2 separate regions of the Homo sapiens genome follow, and region 2 is linked to region 1. Evidence: fine-mapped expression QTL. A gene starts in region 1. The other region holds a variant in brackets. All regions are shown on one strand. Distances are from middle to middle.

The links.
Region 2: its variant is fine-mapped to the expression of MARCHF5 in whole blood (INTERVAL, PIP above 0.99).

The regions. Positions count from the first base shown.
Region 1 is chr10:92,286,350-92,298,145 of GRCh38, reverse strand. It overlaps MARCHF5 (membrane associated ring-CH-type finger 5), which reads right to left and starts at 6,979. Exons shown (of 6, transcript NM_017824.5): 1 at 6,617-6,979. The coding sequence starts at 6,651. It overlaps CPEB3 (cytoplasmic polyadenylation element binding protein 3), which reads left to right and starts at 7,068. Exons shown (of 10, transcript NM_014912.5): 1 at 7,068-7,220. RefSeq lists enhancers at 6,039-6,617, 7,565-7,774 and a silencer at 6,755-7,004.
Region 2 is chr10:92,396,257-92,408,052 of GRCh38, reverse strand. No RefSeq gene overlaps it. Among named protein-coding and RNA genes, the nearest start is that of MARCHF5, 110 kb to the right of the region's middle. RefSeq lists a silencer at 666-715. The variant G/A (reference allele first, on the strand shown) is at 6,075.

The sequences.
Region 1 (11,796 bases):
GCTCACTGCAACCTTTGCCTCCCAGGTTCAAGCGATTCTTGTGCCTCAGCCTCCCGAGTAGCTGAGATTACAGGTATGTGCCACTATGCCCTACTAATGTTTGTATTTTTTGTAGAGATGGGGATTCGCCATGTTGGCCAGGCTGGTCTTGAACTCCTGAGCTCAAGTGATTGGCCTGCCTCGGTCTTCCAAAGTGCTGGGATTACAGGTGTGAGCCACTGCACCCAGCCCTTCAGTACACTTTCAGTAGAGCTAATGACAAGAAAGGGGAATGAAAGTCAAATTATCAGGAAAAATAATAAAGAGAAAATAAGAATCTAAATGTCATAAACGAGACTGGATTAAAAAAGAAAAAAGGCCAGGTGTGGCGGCTCATGCCTGAAATCCCAGCACTTTGGGAGGCCGAGGCAGGTGGATCACGAGGTCGGGAGTTTGAACCAGTCTGGCCAACACAGTGAAACCCTGTCTCTACTAAAAATACAAAAAATTAGCTGGGTGTGGTGGCACGTGCTTGTAGTCCCAGCCACTTGGGAGGTTGAGGTGGGAGAATCAATTGAACTCAGGAGGTGGAGGTTGCAACAGTGAGCCGAGACCACGCCATTGCACTCCAGCTTGGGTGGCAGGGTGAGACTCTGTCTCAAAAAAAAAAAAAAAAAAAAAAAGTTGAAAGCTGGATGTGGTGGAACACACCTGTAGTCCCCCACTTTGGGAGCTTTGGGAGGCCGAGGCGAGCGGATCACTTGAGCCCAGGAGTTTGAGACCAGCCTGGGCAACGTGGTGAAACTCCATCTCCACAAAAAAAATACAAAAAATCAGCTAGGTGTGGTGGTGCACACCAGTAGTCCCAGCTACTCTGGAAGCTGAGGTGGGAGGATCACTTGAGCCTGGGAGGTTGAGGCTGTAGTGAGCCGTGACTGTGACCCTCCACTCCAGCCTGAGCAATGGAGTAAGACCCTGACTCAAAAAAAAAAAAAAAAAAGTAGTCTATTAATATACTTTTCTATATAAAAGCATTAAACCAAGAAGGATGGAAGAATATAAACCCATTTTATGATAGTGGAGTGGGGATGAGAAGATATGCCATTGGGGATGGTGGTCAAAGGGGATTTAATTTTATCTATGATGTTTCCATTTTTTACATATATCTGGAAATAAATATAATTGATGATGATTTTTAATTCTGGGCATTGGTCTGTAATTGTCAACATGGTGATGTGATTGAGAAAAAGAGGTCAACTGACAAAGAAAATGTGAAATTGTTTATACAGCATGCTCCTATCAGAGTATAGCTTCCTTGGTCTTCAAAGGGGTATACATCTGTGGATAACACTCTCACAGAGGCAGAATTCTAATTCACTATACCATTGTGGGAGGGGGCTGGAAGAATAGACCACTCTCTCTGCTCTTTCTGCCATCTGACCATTCTGGGGACATTCTGGCTACACTCCTTGCCTATTTACTAGATGCAAGTAAGTGATGCAAAACAACCTCAACAAATTAATGCGTGTTTATTTTAAGACGGGGGAAGCAGAAGTAGTTTCCAAAAGCATTTCTCAGTAGGTCCAGGCTTCAAATCAGAGGTCCATTCCTGCAGTTTGTTATAATATTCTTTGCATTGTTCTCTGTAAATTCACTCCTAACTTTGAGAAGTTTTAGAGAAAAATGAGAATGTCGGTGGTCAAAGAGAAAGTAATATATAACAACTTCTTATTAAAGAATTGAAGCAATGAAAGACAGAAGAGCTAACTAAGGTTCAAAAGGCCTGACATAAAGGGTTTGGGCTTATGAATGGTTATCATTTCAGGGAAATGATATTTGTGACACTGAAACATTCACGACACTAGAAAAATCACCCCCCTTTCCACCATTCTTGTTTCCCCACAACAACTTAAAAGGTTCAAATAATAAATTTACATAAAACACTTATAGTTTATAAAAACGAAAGGCAATCCAAAGAATATATATCCATATGGTCAGGAGTGGTGGCTCACCCCTGTAATCCCAGCACTTTGGGAAGCAGAGGTAGGTGGATCACCTGAGGTCAGGAGCTCGAGACCAGCCTGACCAACATAGAGATACCCAGTCTCTACTAAAAATACAAAATTAGCCAGGCGTGGTGGCACATGCCTGTAATCCCAGCTACTCCGGAAGCTAAGGCAGGAGAATCACGCGAACCCGAGAGGCGGAGGTTGTGGTGAACCGAGATCGCGCCACTGCCCTCCAGCAGCCTGGGCAACAAGAGCGAAATTCCATGAAAAAAAAAAAAATTCCATATATATATGTATGTATGTATATATATACGTATGTATATGTATTCTTTCCACCTACAAATATTACAGTAATCAAAGTTACCAATATAAACAAATAATAGCTAAACTAAAGTGAGTTATTTGCAAAGGACAAGGGAATTCAACTTCAGCTATTAAGAAGTTGCCACAGGCCAGGCACGGTGGCTCACGCCTGTAATCCCAGCACTGTGGGAGGTCAATTCCGGCAGATTACGACGTCAGGAGATCGAGACCATCCTGGCTAACACGGTGAAACCCCGTCTCTACTAAAAATACAAAAAAATTAGCTGGCCTTAGTGGCGGGTGCCTGTAGTCCCAGCCACTCGGGAGGCTGAGGCAGGAGAATGGCGTGAACCCAAGAGGCACAGTTTGCAGCGAGCCAAGATTGCGCCACTGCACTCCAGCCTGGGCGACTGAGCGAGACTCTGTCTCAAAAAAAAAAATAAAAAATAAATAAATAAATAAATAAAAGAAGTTGTCACCAGTTGGCCCAAGTGACAGAGTGAGACTTCGCCTCAAAAAAAAAAAAAAAAAAAAAAAAAGAAAAGTTGCCTCTAGTTTAAAAACCCTGAAAGATTAAATGGTATAAATTGAACATACCATTCATATTACAATTAAAATAGTCTTCACTTTGACAGTTTAGACAACACAAACACCCCTGGAATTGAAGCTCCATAAGGGCATTTTTGTTATGTTCAATTCACCACTATATACCAAGGGCCTAGAATAGTACTGGGCATATGAAGACACTCAGTATTTGTTAAATAAATTCAATAAGTGTAAATGTTTAATAATTGATTTACTGAAAAATAACATTTTTTTTTAAGACAGGGTCTTGCTCTGTTACCTGGGCTGTAGTACCCAGGGGCACAAACACAGCTCACTACAGCCACGACCCCCAAGGAATCCTTCCACCTCAGCTTCCTGAATATTTGGGACCACAGGCATGTGCCACCAGGCCTGGCCTAATTTTTAACATTTTTGTAAAGACTGAGTCTTGCCATGTTGCCCACACTGGTGTCTAACTCCTGGGCTCAAGCAATCCTCTCATCTCGGCCTCCCAAAGTGCTGGGATTACAGGCATGAGCTACTGTGCCTGGCCTAAATAAAATACGTAACTTAACCTAAAAGCAACAGAACAATATGTAACACACAGTTCCTTAGTCTTCACGAAGATAAAACCTGCATTAAAGAAATAAACAAATGAACAGTTATCTGAGCTAAATTCTGTCCCTCAAAAATTGCCACCAAAAACCAGGTTGGGGAGAAGCCAAATTCATGAAAAGAATTCTGGGTCCTAATAGGCTGACATATTTTAGTCTCTTGGCCCTGTTGGTATTCCTCAAGTGAACCATGTTGAGTATCTTTGTGTTCAACTTGCAGTAGGGCCAGCCCAGGTGAAGAAAGCTGTAAACATAAAGTAGATGGGGGAAAAATGGCCAAACTGGTTTACATTAGTCTTAAGTGCCTTCTATTTGGCTAACATAGAGTGTTTTGCTGTTTTATAGAGATGTATGTTTCATTTGCTGTAGCCCTGTGAAGTAGGGTTCTCATTTTATAAATGATAATATACATAGTGTCAGAATCTAAGTTCAAAGTCACATAGCTAGTAAGTGGCAAAATTCGAATTTCATACTTTCTATCTCTGAGCCCAAGCTTTACTCACTATACCCTACTATCTCTTATCATGAAAGATATCACTGACTTAGGACTTAGGGCAGTAGGTTTCTGCCATATCTAAAACATTTAAAAAGCTTTAAAATATAGATGCCCAGGCTCTACCCTACAGAAATTTTTGATCTTATTGGTCTTACAGTCCAGCATCCATGCATATTCTGAAATGCTCCCCAGGTAATTCTAACATGGAAGTAGGTTGCCAACTACTAATCTAGACAATAACGGTCTTTGAAAGTCATGTTAAAAATCTACCTTAAGGTATGTCAAAAGAGTACAAAGATGAGAGTAGTACAAAGATGAGAGTAAGCCAGTGTCATAGTCACCTACTTCAGTAAATGGCAGCCAGAATCTTCGCATTTCTGTTAATAAGTTTTAAATGCCTCACTAGCTTTTTTTTTTGAGATGGAGTTCCACTCTGTCACTCAGGCTGGAGTACAATGGTGCGATCTCAGCTCACTGCAACCTCCGTCTCCCAGGTTCAAGCAATTCTCATGCCTCAGCCTCCCGAGAGTTGGAACTACAGGCCCACGCCACTACGCCTGCCTAATTTTTGTATTTTTTTTTTTTTTTTTAGTAGAGACAGGGTTTCACCATGTTGGCTAGGCTGGTCTCAAAGGCCTGAGCTCTAGTGATCTGCCTGCCTTGGCCTCCCAAAGTGCTGGGATTACAAGGGTGAGCCACCGTGCCCAGGCTCACTCTTTGGCTTCTTACTTTTATGGAAATATCCAAAGAGCATATGAAAAGTTAGGTCAGCTTTTGGACATAAGAACTTTTCTAGGCTGGGCACGATGGCTCATGCCTGACAATCCAGCACTTTGGGAGGCTAGGCGGGAGGATCACTTGAGCCCAGGAGTTTGAGACCAGCACAGGCAACATGGCAAAACTCTGGCTCTATAAAAATACAAAAAATTAGCTGGGCATGGTGGTATGTGTTGTGGTCCCAGCTACTAGGGAGGCTGAGGTAGGAGGATCACCTGAGCCTGGGAGGCGGGGGTTGCAGTGAGTTGAGATCATGCCAATGCCACTGCCACTGCCACTGCATTCCAGTCTGGGCAACAGAGACCCTGTCTCAAAAAAAGAAGAAAAAAAGTCACTATGTAAAAATGAAAAGCAGGAGGCCCTCAAAGGAAAAAAATTAACTACAAAATACCCCACATCAGAACAGGGTCTCAACAGAATAGAACTGGCAGTGGCAGGTGGTTTCCTCTGGGCATATTTTAATTTGCCACAATTTGCCAATTTACAATGAAAGGAAAACCTGGTAAATTATCAGACCCCCTAGACAACTGGGGAAACTGACAAATAAGTTTGTGCATTAGTTCATACAACAAATACTTACTGATTACCTACTGAGTACCAGGCTCTGTTCTGGGATTCAAGATAAACAATAGTAAGTTTCTGCTTCCAAGAGCTTATAAACCACACACATATCACACACATATATATATAAAGCAGTCAATACAATTGTCAGGATGTTGACCTGAAACAAGGGCTGGATGAATCACCAGTTATCTCAACTGAAAAAAATCAGTGACATAATTCCTATTAACTGAGATGGCTCAAAATTCTAAGCTCCAAAAAAATGTCTGTCACTCTGGAAGGATGTGTACCCTTGGGTCATTTGTGTTCTGGGTGTGGCAGGCCCAAAAGCATTTAACTGGGTATAAACTCAATTAAGGGAGGGCCTTCATTTAACACCTTACAGTTGGAATTTTACTGAGTACAAAGAGTTGGTACCACCTGCTGAAATGGGTGGCAAGTGGTGTCTATTGAGAATTGTAAGCAACCACAAACATCATGAATTAGCTTGTACAACTTGCTATGCCAGGAAGTAAGACTTGGCTCGGGGGAAATGTGGATCTAGAGTCTCCAAAAACTCATGGTAGGACCCACGGACCAGAATTTCAACAGCAGAGGGCGGTGCACCCGACTTCACAAAGAGTTTTACCGACTGGGGCCCCCCAAGAATGGGCAACTGGACTCCTGTACGAGCTGAAACGTCTTCAATGAACTCAACGATCGTCAAGTACACTAAATGTTCAGCGTTGGACTCATTTGGCTGTTTTCCATAACCTCTACTCTGGTCTGACCGTTAAATCTCCCTTGCGGATACTCTGACCTTACAGTTCGGAGGTGGGGACGGGATGGGGCGGGGGGGACGGGGGGTGCGGGTTCAGGGAAAGTGGGAGAATGAAATCAGCCTATCAGGCTTTCCAAAAGAATGCTTATCATTGGTTCTCAGACAGAGACTTAAAATTATAAGGGGGTCATTCCCCTGAAAGATAACCCGGTTCTTGCCAGTGACATCGCTGACAAACACTTCACAAGTTGGGGAGGGGGAAGGGGGAGGGGAAGAGGGTAAGGAAAACTAATTTTGTGGATTAACAGGAGTCCCTCTCAGGTCAAAACGGGGTTCCAAGGAAACCAGACGCCACTCCTTAGCTAAGTTTCACCCAAAGTCTACGACCCAGGCCGCTCGCTCTGTCCTCCCCCAGGTCTAGACTCCAAACTTTTTGCCCCTCTCACGGCCCCCTGGCCGTGGAACTCCTCCCGGCACGCCGGGTTCTGCTCACCAAGAGCCTCGAGGGCGGGCGCGGGCAGGGCCAGAGCGAGGGTCGGCGGCTCCCGGTCCCCCCCACAGCTGCCCGTACCTGTCCAGCATCTGCTGTAGGGCTTGGTCCGGCATCTTCCGCGGAGCCGGCGCACACGGCCTTCCCCAGTGGACCCGCTCAAGGCCAGGCCCAGGGACAATAGCACTGAGAGGCGGCGGAGTAGGCCGCAGTCCGGCGGCAGCCGCGAACCCGTCACCCAGCTTCCCGGGGCAGCTCCGCTAGCCTGGCGGCGGCGGTGCAGGGCCTGCGGGAGTCCGGCGGAGGCGGCGGAGAGCGAGGAGGAGGAGCCTGAGGCGGGGAGGCGGCGATCGCGGCCCGGGTTCCCGTCCGTCGGCCCGAGGTTCCGGTCCATGGACCGCGGGCGCCGAGTTGCTGCCGGCGGAGGAGCTACCTTTGTGAGGTAAGAGTCGCCGCCTCCGTGCGCGCCAGGGTTACGACGCAGGGCGGCCCAGAGCAGCCTGGGAGATGTAGTCTTCGGACCGTCTCCACTAGAGGCTGCACAGCCCGCCCGGACCAACGCCTCCGCGCCTGCCGCCGTCTGGCCGGCGCCCTCCCGTTTCCTTCCTCCAGGGGGAAAAAATGTCTTTCGGGCCGCTTTCCAGGAAGCAGCAGGATGCGCCGCTCCACTGTCGGTAGCAACAAGGTCAGCCCTCCCTGCCTGTTTGTTTTTGCCTCCGCTCTTGCCCTCAGGTGGGACCGAGCCAGGTGAGGGGAGGGGGCTGAAGGGCCATTTCTTATCAGGGTCCCCGGCCCCGGCCGTGGCGTCGGGGCGGTCAGTGGCGGCAGTGGGGGTGGCAGAAACTCCTTCCGAAGCCCCCGGCGCTGGAGCCAGCCTCTCCTGCGGCAGAGCCCATTTTGGGGGAATTACACCACCTCCGCGAGGGGTCGGTTGGTTTGGTGCGTGAGGTTCTTCTTGAGGGGGCGGGCAAATAGGGACTGCCTGGACCAGACAGCTTCCACCCGAGTCTCTCTGTGTGTTTGGGGCTGGGGAGTTGGGGGAAGGAAAGATGATTCTCTCCCTCTCCAGGAACCTTCTCAAATGTGCCTGGGCTTTCCAGGGCTCGCCGACAGTCTCCAAATGGAACACGTTGGTGAATAAACAGCTCTTGCTTACTCAGCTGTGGGTTGTCAGGGATGTTTGTTTCTCTCTCTGCTGCTGGTCACTGTTAACCGTTTCTAGTCGCGTTGACACCTTCAAGCAGGTGGATTGGGAGTGGCGGGGGTGGGGAATCAAAAAGGAGAAATCATCAGTCACTCCTTGGGTCAGCTTCTGACGTTCGAGGGATAGCTTTGGCGGGAGGAAAGAGCTGTCGGCTCAAACGAATGCGTTTTTTGGACGACCTGTGGCGTTTTCTCTAGGGCTGTGATTGGTAGGACGCTGGTAGTTTTCCCTTGATTATGTCTAATATCTGCTACAAGGTGTTTGATTTTTTAAAAAATGAAAATGTGTTTTTAAAGCTCTTTTTATATGTAGAATTTTACAATCAACTTTTCATTATCTGTTCAAAATTTGCGAAGTATATTTGAACTAGAGTGTTCATTGCTGGGAAAAAACAACAAACCCAAAAAATGTGACCAGAAGCTTACTTGGCCTCCAATTTTTGAAATATGTTTTTGAGAAACAGCACCCACCCCCCCCCACCACACACATACACACACACTCCTCCTAGGGAAAGAAAATGAGTATTTAGTTTAATCGGGGTGTCTAATATTTTATATATATTTGTATTATATATAATATATATGTATTATATAATATATAATACATTTATAATATATAATACATATATACATTTATAATATATAATACATATATATATATATATATATATATATTTTTTTTTTTTTTTGGTAGAGACGCGGTCTCGCCATGTTGCCCAGGCTGGTCTTGCAACTCCTGGGCTCAAGCGAGCCACCCGCATTGGTCTCCCAAAGTGTTGGGATTACAGATGTGAGTCACCGCATGTGACCAGTGTCTAATATTTTATTTAATTAATTCATTTATTTAATTAATTCATTGATTTTGAGAGATGGAGTCTTGCTCTGTTGCCCAGGCTGGAGTGCAGTGGCGCTGTCTTGACTCACTGCAAGCTCCACTTCCTGACTTCAAGTGATCCTTCTAGCCTCAGCTTCCCAAGTAGCTGGGACTACAGGTGTGTGCCACCACACCCAGCTAATTTTTGTGTTTTTTAGTAGAGATGGGGTTTCACTATATGTTGACCAGGCTGGTCTCGAACTTCTGACCTCAGGCGATCAGCCCGTCTCGGCCTCCCAAAGTGCTGGGATTACAGGGGCGAGCCACCGCGCCTGGTCTATTTTATTTTTTTGAGACGGAGTCTCGCTGTGTTGCTCAGGATGGAGTGCAGTGGCACTATCTTGGCTCACTGCAGTCTCCTCCTCCGGGTTCAGGTGATTATCGTGCCTCAGCCTCCGGAGTAGCTGGGATTACAGGCTCGCACCACCATGCCTGGCTAACTTTTGTATTTTTGGCAGAGGCAGGGTCTCACCATGTTGACCAGGCTGATCTTGAACTGATCTCAGGTGATCTGCCTGCCTCGGCCTCCCATAGGGCTGGGATCATAGATGTGAGCCACCGTGCACAGCCCGGTGTCTTAACATTTTAAATTATTATTTTTTGCTCCTTGTGCTGTGTCAGTCTAACCTTATTGTGTACTTATTTCTTAAGCAGTTGTCAGCCATGGGAGTTGGATATATACTTCCTGCTTAAAAACAGAATTTTATCCCAGCATATGGATTAAGTACACTAGTACAAACTCCAAGATTCTAAGATCTTAACCAATGTTAGAATGTCTGTTTCAACTGAAATTGGAAAATATGATACCTTTTGTTGATAGCAAAGACTTGTGCACCTTGACCTTATTATACCAACAAATGGATTTTATGTTTGCATTTTTATGAAAAATCAGCTTTCTGGCTGTGTCAAAAACCTTTTAAAGTAGAAAAAAATCCTGTTACTGGTCTAAAGAGTGATTAGCATGTGACCCAGTAATTCCACTTCTAGGTATTTTCAAGAGAAATGAAAACATGTCTACACAAAATCTTGTTTGTGAATGTTCATAGCAGCATTATTCTGGGTTTTTTTTTTTTTTTTTTGAGACAGAGTCTCGCTTTGTCATCCAGGCTGGAGTGCAGTGGCGCCAGCTCACTGCATCCTCAGCCTCAGGGGCTCAAGCACTCCCCCTGCCTCAGCCCCCCAAGTAGCTAGGACTACAGGGGCGCACCACCATGTCTGGCTTAAAAAAATTTTTTTTGTAGAGATGGTGTTTTGCCATGTTGCCCAGGCTGGTTTCGAACTCATGAGCACAAATGATCCTCCCACCTCGGCCTCCCAAAATGCTAGGATTACAGGCATGAGCCACAGCACCTGGCCTACAGCATTATTCTTGATAGCCAAAAAGTGGAAACCCAAATATCCACCAGTTGATGAATGGATAAACCACATGTGGTGTATCATACAATAGAATATTATTAGGAGAAAACAAGGAATAAAGTTATGATACATGCTATAACATGAAAGAACCTTGAAAACATTATACCAAGTGAGAGGAGCCAGTCACAAAGACCACATATTGTATGATTCTGTTTGCATGAAAAGTCAAGAATAGGCAACTCCATAGAGACGGAAAGTAGACTAGTGATTGCATAGGGCTGAAGGAGTTGGGGAGAAATGGGGAGTGACTGCTAATGAGTATGAGGTTCCTTATTAGAGGGATGAAAGTATTCTAGAATTAGATAATGGTTCTGGTTATATAATTTTGTGAATTATATCACAAATAAGATAAAATTAGATTATGGTAATAGTGGCAAAACTGTAAATATACTCAAAAACCCATTGTACACTTAAAAGGGGTGAATTTTAATGTTACATAAATTACATCTCAATAAAGCTTTTAAAAGAGTAATTAGCTCCACAGAAAATGTTCATAAGGGTATCTGAAAAGAAGCATATAAACAGATAACTGATAATTCTTTATTATCAACTTTGTTTCTTATTAGTATGGGCAAAAATAGTGATTGATAAAACTCAGAAAATAAATTAATCCTAACATTTGAAATGGGTGACACATATTGTGTGAATTTCAATATTGTTTGTCAGCTTTGTTTTTTGTGGTCTTACATTTTCCAATAAGACTCAGAATAATTGGAATTACAATATATTCTCTGATTTTGAAGGAAAAAAGTCTAGATTATTAAGACCTTAATCTGACCAAAACCACATTGAAATGCACTCCTGCATTTATATGTAGGGTTGAAAATCTATGATAGTGGCGCATACCTGTAGTCCCAGCTACTCAGGAGGCTGAGATAGGAGAATCGCTTGAACCTGGGAGGCGGAGGTTGCAATGAGCTGAGATCGCACCACTGCACTCCAGCCTGGCAACAGAGTGAGACTCCGTCTCAAAAAAAAAAAAAAGTCTATGATAAATGATATTCAGCCAAGAGAGTAACCAGCATGACTATAGACAAAAACAACTTTTTCCTCAGAGATATATTTTGAAATAGAAATTAACCTACAGAAAATATTTAAAGATTCTCCCAAGTTCAGAGGACAAGAACAAAGCTTGATGATGTAGAGTTCTAAAGAGTTGGGATTATAGGCGCACACCACTATTTTAATAATTCTGTAATGGATTTAGAGATAACTGAGTATGAGCTGCTCTAAATATGTCAGAAAATTTAAAATAATATACCACTCTAATGTTCTTCCATCATACTTGTTTTGAACTGTCTACCATAAAGGGGCCTGGAGTATTCGTTACAGAAATGGTATAATATTTTTAGGTGCCTTCTAAGGAGAACTGTCAATTGCCAAATTTGGTGATAAACTGCAGGCTGAGTCCTCATTCCAAGCTACAGAAAGTTTTTTTTTCATTAATTCCTTCAGCAGGTGTTTCCAGAAAATATATGCATAGGTATGCTAGTAGCAAATTATAACTATACCTATGTTTTTTTTTTTTTTTTTTAGATAGAGTCTTGCTCTGCTGCCCAGGCTGGAGTGCAGTGGTGCCATCTCAGCTCACTGCAACCTCCCACTCCCAGGTTCAAGAGATTCTCATGCCTCAGCCACCTGAGTAGGTGGGATCACAGGCATGCATCACCACGCCCAGCTAATTTTTGTATTTTTAGTAGAGATGAGGTTTCTCCATGTTGCCCAGGCTGGTCTTGAACTCCTGACCTCAAGTGATCCACTTGCCTTG
Region 2 (11,796 bases), 110 kb before region 1:
CCTCCTCAAATTGCTCCTGGGGACAACATCACTGTTGTAAAGCCCAAGATCAGTGCTTGAGATATTCTGCAGATCCTGCACTTAATGGATCAGCTGACACCACCCAGACCCATAAACTGGCTCATCTGATCTTGTGATCCCCACCCAGGAACTGACTCAGCGCAAGAGTACAGCTTCGACTCCCTATGATTTCGTCTCTGACCTGACCAGCCAACACTCCCAACTCCCTGGCCCCCCACCCACCAAATTACCCTTAAAAACTCTGATCCCCACCAGGTGTGGTGGCTCATGCTTGTAGCTTTGGGAGGCCAAGGCGGGCAAATCACTTGAGGTCAGGAGTTTGAGACCAGCCTGGCCAACATGACAAAACCCTGTCTCCAAAATTAGCCAGGCATGGAGGCACATGTGTGTAATCCCAGTTACTCCAGAGGCTGAGGCAGGAGAATCCCTTGAACCTGGGAGGCGGGAGGCAGAGATTGCAGTGAGCAGAGATTGCACCACTGCAACTCCAGCCTGGGCGATAGAGCAAGACTTTGTCTCAAAAAAAGAAAAACAAAAACAAAAAAACCTTTGTTCCCCAAATGCCTGGGGAGACTGACTGAGTAATAATAAAACTGTAGGGGGCACAGCCAGCTCTGCATGAATTACTCTTTCTCTATTGCACTTCCCCTGTCTTGATGAATTGGCTCTGGCTAGATAGCGGGCGAGGTGAACCCCTCAGGCGGTTACACAGGTACTGTATGAGGCTCCCATCCCCTCCAGACTTTGTCTTGACCTGTTGTAAAATCCAACTGCATGTATTTACTGTCCCTCCTATAGGAAGCATCTCTGAGATCTGAGTTAGGTAGCATTTGCTTTCAGCAAGAGAGCAAGGAGGGGGCAAAACCCAAACTTACACCTAGCTCCTTCTCTCCTCCATATCTAAGTGCCCACAGCCTTCACTGGTGAGGAGGCCTGCCTTCCCCAGCACAGCTCTGTGCACCAAGCTACCCTGTCATTTGGCAAGAGCAGATCAGGAAGTGCTGACCTCTTGGCTCAGTCTCCTGTGAGCCATTCCTGGGCTTGAATGAGATCTCTAGTTTAGAGAGGCAGCACAGAGGAACCTCCAGGTAATAATAAGAACCTGATACCGGCCAGGTGCGGTGGCTCACGCCTGTAATCCCAGCACTTTGGGAGGTTGAGGCGGGGGATCACGAGGTCAGGAGTTCAAGACCAGCCTGGCCAAAATGGTGAACCCCCGTCTCTACTAAATATACAAAAATTAGCCAGGTGTGGTGGCAGTTGCCTGTAATCCCAGCTACTCGGGAGGCTGAGGCAGGAGAATCACTTGAACCCGGGAGGCAGAGGTTGCAATGAGCTGATATTATGCCACTGCACTCCAGCCTAGGTGACAGAGTGAGACTCCGTCTTAAAAAAAAAAAAAAAAGAACCAGATACCAAAGAAAACACAGGACACCTGGCATCTGGTCCAGCCTCACTAACTGGCCATGTGAACCTGGATGAACCATTTGGGCTCAGTTTGCCTGTCTGTGAAATGAGGAAGGTTTTTTATTTTTTGTAGAGAAAGGGTTTCATTATGTTGCCTAGGCTGGTCTTGAACTCCTGGGCTCAAGTGATGTCTTGCCTCAGCCTCCCAAAGAGATGGGATTACAGATATGAGCCACCGTGCCTGGCCTAAGCCACTGAATTTTGAGGTGATTTATTATATTGCAATAACTAACTGAAACATGAGGAGAACCTGGTCACAAAATCCATCACATCCTTAGAGAAGTTAGAAAAAACATCTAAAATTCTTAGTTCTGGGCCAGGTGAGGTGGCTTATGCCTGTAATCCCAGCACTTTGGGAGGCTGAGGCAGGTTGATCACAAGTTAAGGAGTTTGAGACAAGCCTGGCCAACATGGTGAAACCCCGTCTCTACTAAAAATACAAAAATTAGCCGGGCGTGGTGGCGCACACCTGTAATCCCAGCTACTCAGGAGGCTGAGGCAGGAGAATTGCTTGAACCTGGGAAGCGGAGGTTGCAGTGAGCTGAGATCATGCCACTGCACTCCAGCCTGGGTGACAGAGCAAGACTCCGTCTTGAAAAAATAAAATTAAAAAAGTTCTTAGTACCTCTGGTTTCTTCTCTGGGTTCTTAATATTCTTCTTCCCTGTATTCCGGACACCATCTCTCCCCCAGCTCCAAGGTTACTGCGCCCCTGCCAGCCTTGAGATGAAGGTTCTGGGCTGTCTGTGCTCTGTGGCTCAAGCTGTGTTCTTCCCGATGCTGCTGTTGCTCTCCTCTCACCTGCACTTGGTGCAGGAGGAGCCAGTCCTTACCATGCAACCTTATGCCAAGGGCTTTGATTCAGCTGCTGCCTTGTAGGCTGTCATGAGGCCAGTTTCCCTTTCTCTTTCCCTTGGGGGTAGGGAGACAAGGGTGGCCCCTGGGGAGGATACTGGACTCCCAGGAGCAGATGCTGAGGAGAAAGGTAAGCCCTGATCTCACCCTCAGCCTGGGAACCTGGGCCATGCTTCTACTCTCTTCCTCGGGAGGCCTGCTAGAGACCCATGCTGCTCCAAGGGCCCTGGAAGCAGCCTGCGCCTCTGGAAGCTCGGCTCCCAAATCCAACTTCCTCCTTGTAAATTTCAGTCTCTCCCAGCCCTCTTGGGTCAGGATACCACGATTGCTGCAGGATCTGCCCTGGCTGAAGGTTTAAGAACTGCCAAACTTTTCATTAGAGAGCTTTAAAGAGGAGCAGAAAGGGATTGCACATTTTAGTAGGATCACTGTGGCTGCTGAGTGAAAAAGAGACTGCGAGGCAGCCCAGGCAGAACAGGAGGCTGGGCGGGAGGTGAAAGATGAGAGGGGTTTAGACTGTGGCTGGAGCCAGACAGGAGCCTGCAGTGTGTTGACATGGGGTTGGATTCCACGTGTATATTGAGGGTAGAGGCAGCAGCATTTGCTGATGGATTAGATGTGAGGAGCAAAAGAAAAAGCTTCAAGATTTAGGGACTGAGCAACCGGAAGGGTGAAGATGAACTGAGGTGAGGAAGGATGGGAAGAACAAGCTGGGATGCACAGGGGAAGAGAAAGAGCTCGGGATGCTGGATTGGGAATCCAGGAATCAAAGCCCTAATATCATGTCTGCCGCACGCTAATAACAACACTTAACTAATCACTTACATAGGCCAGGCCCTCTTCCAAGCACTTTCCATACATCATCTCCATCTCCTCATGATGGCCCTACAAGGTAGATTTCATCATCCTCATTTCACAGAGAGGAAACAGGGAGGCTAAGGGATTTGCTGCACAGGGACACAGCAGCAGAGCTGGGCTCGTAAGCAGGCAGAAAACTGCCTCCTGTTGTACATATATCCATTTCACTTGCTGAGCTTGTTTCCTCCTCTGAAAATCAAGAGGTTGGAGTGCAGATCTCTAAGTCCTGACACCGTAAATGGGCCCAGTGTAGGCTGTGGCTCTTTCTGGCAGAGGACATTTCATGCCAACACTTAGCACGTGGGCTTTCACTGCTGCAGTGAAAAGCAGTACAAAGAAAATACCCAATGACCCACATTCTGGTTTTGAGAATATTGTGATGTATTATGAATGGATCCTTCCGAAGTGTGGTTTGAACACCTAGTTAAATAATAATTCATTCCTGGATATGAGACATTTTGAAGGATAGGCTCTAATGGAATAATATTATGAATTGTGAATTGGAACATTAAATTAAATATGAAGTTACATTCTTTTCTGTCACCTCCAGCTTTCTTCTTGGGGGAATCAATGAATTTCTATAGAAAGCAGAGCTTCCTGAGCCCCTCACATGTATTTTTGTGTGTCTGTGTTTTTTTGTGTGTCTCATTAATGAGCCAATTAGTGGGAATAGGAGGAGAAACACAATCTCGTTGCAGGATTTTTTACTCACATAGTCCTCCGTAGCCTCCACAGGTGTTACACTCTGTTCAGGCGACTACAACAAAAATACCATAGACTGGGTGGCTTACAACAACAACATTTATTTATTTATTTAGAGATGCGATCTCTGTCACTCAGGCTGGAGTGCAGTGGGGCAATCATGGCTCACTGCAGCCTCAATCTTTCTGGCTCAACCAATTCTCCTACCTCAGCCTCCAGAGTAGGTGGGACCACAAGTGCACACCACCATACCCCACTAATTGTTTTTTTAATTTCTGTACAGGTGGGGTCTTGACTTGTTGCCCAGGCTGGTCTTGAACTCCTGGGCTCAAGCAATTCTCCTGCCTCAGACTCCCAAAGTGCTGGGATTACAAGCATGAGCCTGGTAAGTCCAAGATCAAGGTGGCAGCAGATCTGGTGTCTGCAGAGTATCCGCTTTCTGGTGTGCAGGTGACCATCTTCTCATTGTACTGAAGCAGCGTCATTGTCTGGGGTAAATACCCAAGGTTTGTTGTCTCTTGCCAAGGGAATGGAGGACATGGACACACAAGGAGTGAGTTTAAGAGCGGAGGTTTATTGGCCGAGTGCGGTGGCTCATGCCTGTAATCCCAGCACTTTGGGAGGCTGAAGTGGGTGGATCACTTGAGGTCAGGAATTCAAGACCAGCCTGGCCAACATGGTGAAACCCTGTCTCTACAAATATACAAAAATTAGTCCAGCGTCATGGTGCACGCCCGTGATCCCAGCTACTCGGGAGACTGAGGCTGGAGAATTGCTTGAGCCCAAGAGGCAGAGGTTGCAGTGAGCCAAAATCGAGCCACTGCCCTCCAGCCTGGGTGACAGAGTGAGACTCCATCTCAGAAAAAAAGGAAAAAAAAAAAGAGCAGAGGTTTAATAGGCAAAAGAGAAAAGAGAATAGCTCTCTCTCTCCTGCAGAAAGAAAGGGGTGCCTGAGTGGGTCTTCTGGTTTTGTGGTGAAATGCACTGGTTTTTATAGGAAAGCTGGAGGAGGGAGTGTCTCTGATTTACACAGGGCCCAAGAGATTGGTCAGACCAGGTGTGACATTTGGATAGCAGGTAAGAAGCTGGCCATCCCACCCTAATCTTTTATTGTGCAGATGGGGTCTCTAACTGGCTGGCACCATGTTGTCTGTTCCTTACTGTACACGTGGTTGACAAAGAAAAGGGAAGATGGAGCCGCCATGTTGAACATGCCTGGCCCCCGGGTAGCCTTTTCCTATTGACGCAGCTGCCAGCATTCACCCATGCAAACTTCCAGCTTACTTATCTATGTCTGCAGCTCAATTTTACAGGCTGCTCTTTGTTAGAAAAGAAATTATTTTAGGGCTGCTTTCCATTAACAGAAAAACCTTACTGAGGACTTTCTTACCCTCACTATCTGCCTAAACAATTTCTGAACTCCTATATCAGTATCGTCACATGGTGGAGAGCAGAGAGAGGAAGCAACTTCTGTGACTCTTCTCACAAGGGCACTGATCCCATTCATGAGGGGGTAACCACCCAGTCGGTTCACCTTGCCCGCTGCCTAGACAGAGCAGATTTATCAAGACAGGGGAACTGCGATAGAGAAAGAGTAATTCATGCAGAGCCAGCTGTGCAGGAGACTGGAGTTTTCTTATTACTCAAATCAGTCTCCCTGAGCATTTGGGGATCAGAGTTTTTAAGGACAACTTGGTGGGTGGGGGGAGGCCAGTGAGCCAGGAGTACTGATTGGTCGGAGATGAAATCATAGTGAGTCAAAGCTGTCTTCTTGCGCTGAGCCAGTTCCTGGGTGGGGGCCACAAGATCAGATGAGCCAGTTTATCAATCTGGGTGGTGCCAGGGTCTGCAAGTACAGGGTCTGAAAAATATCTCAAGCACTGATCTTAGGAGAAGTTTAGGGAGGGTCAGAATCTTGTAGCCTGCTGCATGACCCCTAAACCATAATTTCTAATCTTGTGGCTAATGTTAGTTCTACAAAGGCAATCTAGTCCCCAGGCAAGAAGGAGGTCTGCTTTGGGAAAGGGCTGTTGAGGTCTTTGTTTTAGACTTAAGTTTCTCCCAAAGTTAGTTCAGCCTATGCCCAAGAATGGAAAAGGACAGCTTGGAAGTTAGGGCCGGGCACGGTGGCTCACGCCTGTAATACCAGCACTTTGGGAGGTCGAGGCGGGC[G/A]GATCACGAGGTCAGGAGATCAAGACCATCCTGGCTAACACGGTGAAACCCCATCTCTACTAAAAATACAAAAAATTAGCCCGGCGTGGTGGCGGGTGCCTGTGGTCCCAGCTACTCGGGAGGCTGAGGCAGGAGAATGATGTGAACCCGAGAGGCAGAGCTTGCGGTGAGTCAAGATCGCGCCACTGCACTCCAGTCTAGGCGACAGAGCAAGACTCCGTCTCAAAAAAAAAAAAAAAAAAAAAAAAGAAAGAAAGAAAGGACAGCTTGGAAGTTTGGAAGTTAGAAGCAAGATGGGGTCGATTAAGTCAGCTCTCTTCCACTGTCTCAGTCATCATTGTGCAAAGGTGGTTTCAAGGGCTCCACCCTCATGACCTAATTACTTCCCAAAGGCCCCCACCTTCTAATACCATCACACTGGGGATCAGGAGGCCATCCTCAGAATTTTGGGGGAACATGAACATTCAGTTCATAGCTGCAGGGAAGTAAGTGTTCAAAGTGTTATTCACTGGGCTGGGCAGACCTCTGTGTGAGTCCCAGATCAGCTGCTTACCAGCCAAGAGGAGTTACTTAACCTTGTTAAGACTACAAGACTGCTATACAGTGACCTTTCAGAAAACTTTTCTCTTGTGATTTCTTCTTTAAACCTGGGGTTATTTAAAAGTATGTTGTTATCTGTCTCTAAAAAAATTTTAAAAATTAGCTGGTGACACATGCCTATAGTCCCAGCTACTTGGGAGACTGAGGCAGGAGGATTGCTTGAGCTCAGGAGGCTGAGGCTGCAGTAAGTCATGATCACATTACTGCACTTCAGCTTGGGTGACAAAGGGAGACCCTTTCTCAGGAAAAACAAAAAAACAAAAAAAACCTGTGTTGTTTAGTTTCCAAATATTTGTGGAATTCCTAAATTTCCTATCACTTTTTCTTTTTCTTTTTTTTTTTGAGGTGGAGTCTGGCTCTGTAGCCCAGGCTGGAGTGCAGTGGCATGATCTCGGCTCACTGCAAGCTCTGCCTCCCGGGTTCACACGGTTCTCCTGCCTCAGCCTCCCGAGTAGCTGGGACTACAGGCGCCCTCCACCATGCCTAATTTTTCTGTATTTTGAGTAGAGAGGGGGTTTCACCATGTTAGCCAGGATGTTCTTGATCTCCTGACCTCGTGATCCACCCGCCTCGGCCTCCCAAAGTGCTAGGATTACAGGCGTGAGCCACTGTGCCTGGCCCATTTTTGATTTTTCATATAATTTCATTATGGCCAGTAAACACACTTTGTGTGATTTCCACCCTTTTATAGTTATTGAGACTTGCTTTTTATCCTAGAGAATGTTCTAAGTGGGCCTGAAAAGAATGTATATTCTGCTACCATTGAGTGGAGTGCTCTATAATGATGAGTTAGGTCAAATAGGAGGATGTGTATCTCTACTTATTTTCGTTGAGTTCTATTTCTCATTTTAACTCTTATTTTTTTCATATATTTTGATTATCTATTGATTGATACATATATAATTATAATTGTTACAACTTCACATATTGACCCTTTTAAATATTCTTTTTCTTTTTTTTCAATAGAGATGGGGTCTCGCTATGTTGGCCAGCCTGGTTTTGAATTCCTGGTCTGAAGCAATCCTCCCACCTCAGCTTCCCAAAGTGCTGAGATTACAGGAGTGAGCCACTGTGCCCAGACAATTCACCCTTTTATTCTTGTGAAATGTCCCTCTTTTTTTTTTTTTTTTTTTTTTTTTGAGACAGAGTTTTCACTCTTGTTGCCCAGGCTAGAGTGCAATGGTGTGATCTCAGCTCACTGCAACCTCTGCCTCCTGGGTTCAAGCGATTCTCCTGTCTCAACCTCCCAAGTAGCTGGGATTACAGGTGCATGCCACCACACCTGGCTAATTTTTGTATTGTTAGTAGAGATGGGGTTTCATCATATTGGCCAGGCTGGTCTCGAACTCCTGACCTCAGGTGATCCGCCCACCTCGGCCTCCCAAAGTGCTGGGATCACAGGCATGAACCACCGTGTCCAGCCAAAATGTCCCTTTTTGTTTCTAGTATTGTTGCTTGGCTTAAAGTCTATTTTGTCTAATATGAATATAGCCACTCCAGCTCTCTTTTGGTTATTGTTTGCATGGTATATCTTCTTTCATCCTTTTACTTTCTGAGAAATTCTTTATTTCTCCTTTGCTTTAAGGATTATTTCACAGAATACAGAATTGTAAGTTGGTGGGGTTTTTTTCTCTCAATACTTTTTTTTTTGTTTGAGACGGAGTCTTGCTCTGGTGCCCAGGTTGGAGTGCAGTGGTGCGATCTCCGCTCACTGCAAGCTCTGCCTCCCGGGTTCACGCCATTCTCCTGCATCAGCCTCCCGAGTAGCTGGAGGCTACAGGTGCCTGCCACCACGCCCTGCTAATTTTTTTTTTGTATTTTTAGTAGAGACAGGGTTTCACCGTGTTAGCCAGGATGGTCTCAATCTCCTGACCTCGTGATCCGCCCGCCTCGGCCTCCCAAAGTGCTGGGATTACAAGCGTGAGCCACCCAGCCTGGCCCTCTCAATTTCACTTCACCCACTTTTTGCTTGCATGGCTTCTGATGAAAAGTTGGATGTAATTCTTTTCTTTGCTCCCCTACAGGTAAGGTGTTCCCTGCCCCCTCCCCTGATTTCTTTCAGTATTTTTCTTTTTTCTTTTTCTTTGAGATAGGATCTCACTGTGTTGCCCAGGCTGGTCTCAAACTCCTGGGCTCAAGCAATTCTCCCCACTCAGCCTCCCAAGTAGCTGGGATTACAGGTGTGAGCCACCACACCTGCTAGTATTTCTCTTTATCTTTGATTTTCTGTCATTTGGCAATGATATGCCTCAGTATAGTTTTTCTGGCATTTATCCTGCTTGTGTTCTCTGAGCTTCCTAGATCTGTGGTTTTGAATCTAACATTAATTTGGGAAATTCCCAGTAATTATTGTTTCAAATATTTCTTCTGATCATTTTTCTCTTTTTTTCCCCTGGTATTCCCATTATGTGTATAATTCTCCCACAGTTCTTGAATATTCTGGGGTTGGCTTTTTAGTCTTTTTTCTCTTTGCTTTTCAACTTTGGGGATTTTTTACTGAGCTATCCTCAAATGCAGAGATTCCTCAGCTGTGTCTAGTTTACTAATAAGTCCATTAAAGGCGTTCTTCATTTCTGTTACATAGCATTTATTTTTGATCATTTCTTAGAATTTCCATTTCTCTGCCTACATTGCACACCTGCTCTTGCATGCCTGTCTACTTTATCCATTGGATCCCTTAGAATATTAATCAGAGTTGTTTTAAATTCCTAGTCTGACAGTTCCAACATCCTTGCCATCTCAGCCTGATTTTGATACTTGCTCTGTCTCTTCAAACTGTGTTTTTGCCTTGTAGTATGTCTTGTGATTTTTTTTTTTTTTTTTTTTTTTTTTTTTTTTGAGACGGAGTCTCGCTCTGTCACCCAGGCTGGAGTGCAGTGGCGGGATCTCGGCTCACTGCAAGCTCCGCCTCCCGGGTTCACGCCATTCTCCTGCCTCAGCCTCCCAAGTAGCTGGGACTACAGGCGCCCGCCACTACGCCCGGCTAATTTTTTGTATTTTTAGTAGAGACGGGGTTTCACCGTTTTAGCCGGGATGGTCTCGATCTCCTGACCTCGTGATCCGCCCGCCTCGGCCTCCCAAAGTGCTGGGATTACAGGCGTGAGCCACCGCGCCCGGCCCTCTTGTGATTTTTTTCTTGCTAGCCAAACATGATATACTGGGTAAAAGGAACAGCTGTACATCGGCCTTGAGTGATGTGGTGGTGAGGTGTGGGGGAGGGGGAGTATTCTATGTTCCCATGATTAGGTGTCAGCCTTGCAGTGAGCCTGTGCCTCTGGCCTGTGAACTTTACACATGTTTCTTGGTTCACCTGCCTTCCCATTTAGTGAGACAGGCTGGCTAGAATGGGCTGGGGTTGGGTATTTCCCATGCTCCGTGTTGAAGGCTAGAGCCAGCAAGTTGGATATTTACTCTTTTCCCAGGTCAGTCAGGCTCTGATAAAACCCCAGCAGGTTAGACCCTAGTTAATTAGTTTCCCCTAAGGGTAGACCTCGTTAAGAAAAACCAAATGCTCTGTTTACAGTCATGCCTTGATTAACGATGGGGATACATTCTGAGAAATGTATCGTTAGGTGATTTCATCATCGTGGAATCATCATAGAGTGAACTTCCACAAACCGAGATGGTATCGCCTACTACACAGCTGTATGGTATATGGTATAGCCTGTTGCTCCTGGGCTACGAACCTCACAGCATGTTACTGTATTGAATGCCATAGGCAATTGTAAGACAATGGTGAGTATTTATGCATCTAAACATAGAAAAGGTACAGTGAGGCCGGGCACAGTGGCTTATGCCTGTAATCCCAGCACTTTGGGAGGCCGAGGAGAGTGGATCATCAGAGGTCAGGAGTTCGAGACCAGCCTGGCCAACATGATGAAACCCTATCTCTACTAAAAATACAAAAATTAGCTGGGCATGGTGGCAGGCGCCTGTAATCCCAGCTACTCAGGAGGCTGAGGCAGGAGAATTGCTTGAACCCAGGAGGCGGAGGTTGCAGTGAGCCGAGATCACGCCATTGTACTCCAGCCTAGATGATAAGAGTGAAACTTCGTCTAAAAAATAATAATAAAGTAAAAATACAATATTAGCATCTTTTATTTTCTAATTTTTATTTTTATTTTTGAGAGATGAGGGTCTCACTATGTTGGCCTTGAACTCCTGGCTTCAAGCAATCCTCCTGCCTCAGCCTTCTGAAGTGCTAGGATTACAGGTGTGAGCCACCATGCCCAGCCAATATTAGCATCTCATGGGACCACCACCATATATGCCCAAAATGGTATGTGGTACGTTACTGTGTTTCAAAATGGTTCCTTTCCCCCTCCCCCTGCAGGAAGCATGAGGGGATTTTTCTCTAATATTTACTGTAGAACCTGGTTGAGCTCCCAGAGGTAAAACTCACAAAAATAAGGGAGCCCCCACTCCATGACTGGAACCCACTGGAGTTTTTGGGATTTTTTTGTGTTTTATTTGTTTGTTTGTTTTTCAGAGACAGGGTCTTGCTCTGCTGCCCAGGCTGGAGTGCTGCGATGCGATCATAGCTCACTGCAACCTCAAACTCCTGGGCTCCAGCAATCCTCAGCCTCCACCTCCCTCCTCAGTAGCTAGGACTACAGGCACGTGCCACCACTCCTGGCTAGTTTAATTTTCAGTAGAGACAAGGTCTTGCTATGTTGCCCAGCTTGGTCTCAAACTTCTACTCCTGGGCTCAAGTGATCCTCCTACCTTGGCCTCCCAAAGTGTTGGGATTATAGGCGTGAACGACCGTGCCCGGCCCCCTGGAGGTTTTGACTTTCAGGCTCCTGCACACTGACCATCCCGCAGCTCATTACTTACAATTTAGGTTTCCCTTCCTGGGTGCTGGTTCCTGTGGCCATTTCAGCTCATGGGTTGCTGCTCCGGTAAGTTGTGATTCTCTGTATTCGCCTGCCCATCTCTCCAAGTGTGGGGGCAGCGATTTGCCCTGTGACCTCACTTCTCTTATGCATCTAAGAAGAGTTGATTTTTCAGTTTGTTCAGCTTTTTACTTGTTGTTAGTATAGAGTGGCGACTGCCGAGCTCCTTGCGTGCCAGACCAGAAACCTGACACCCTCTGTTCAGCTTTTTATTCTTAGTGCGGTGC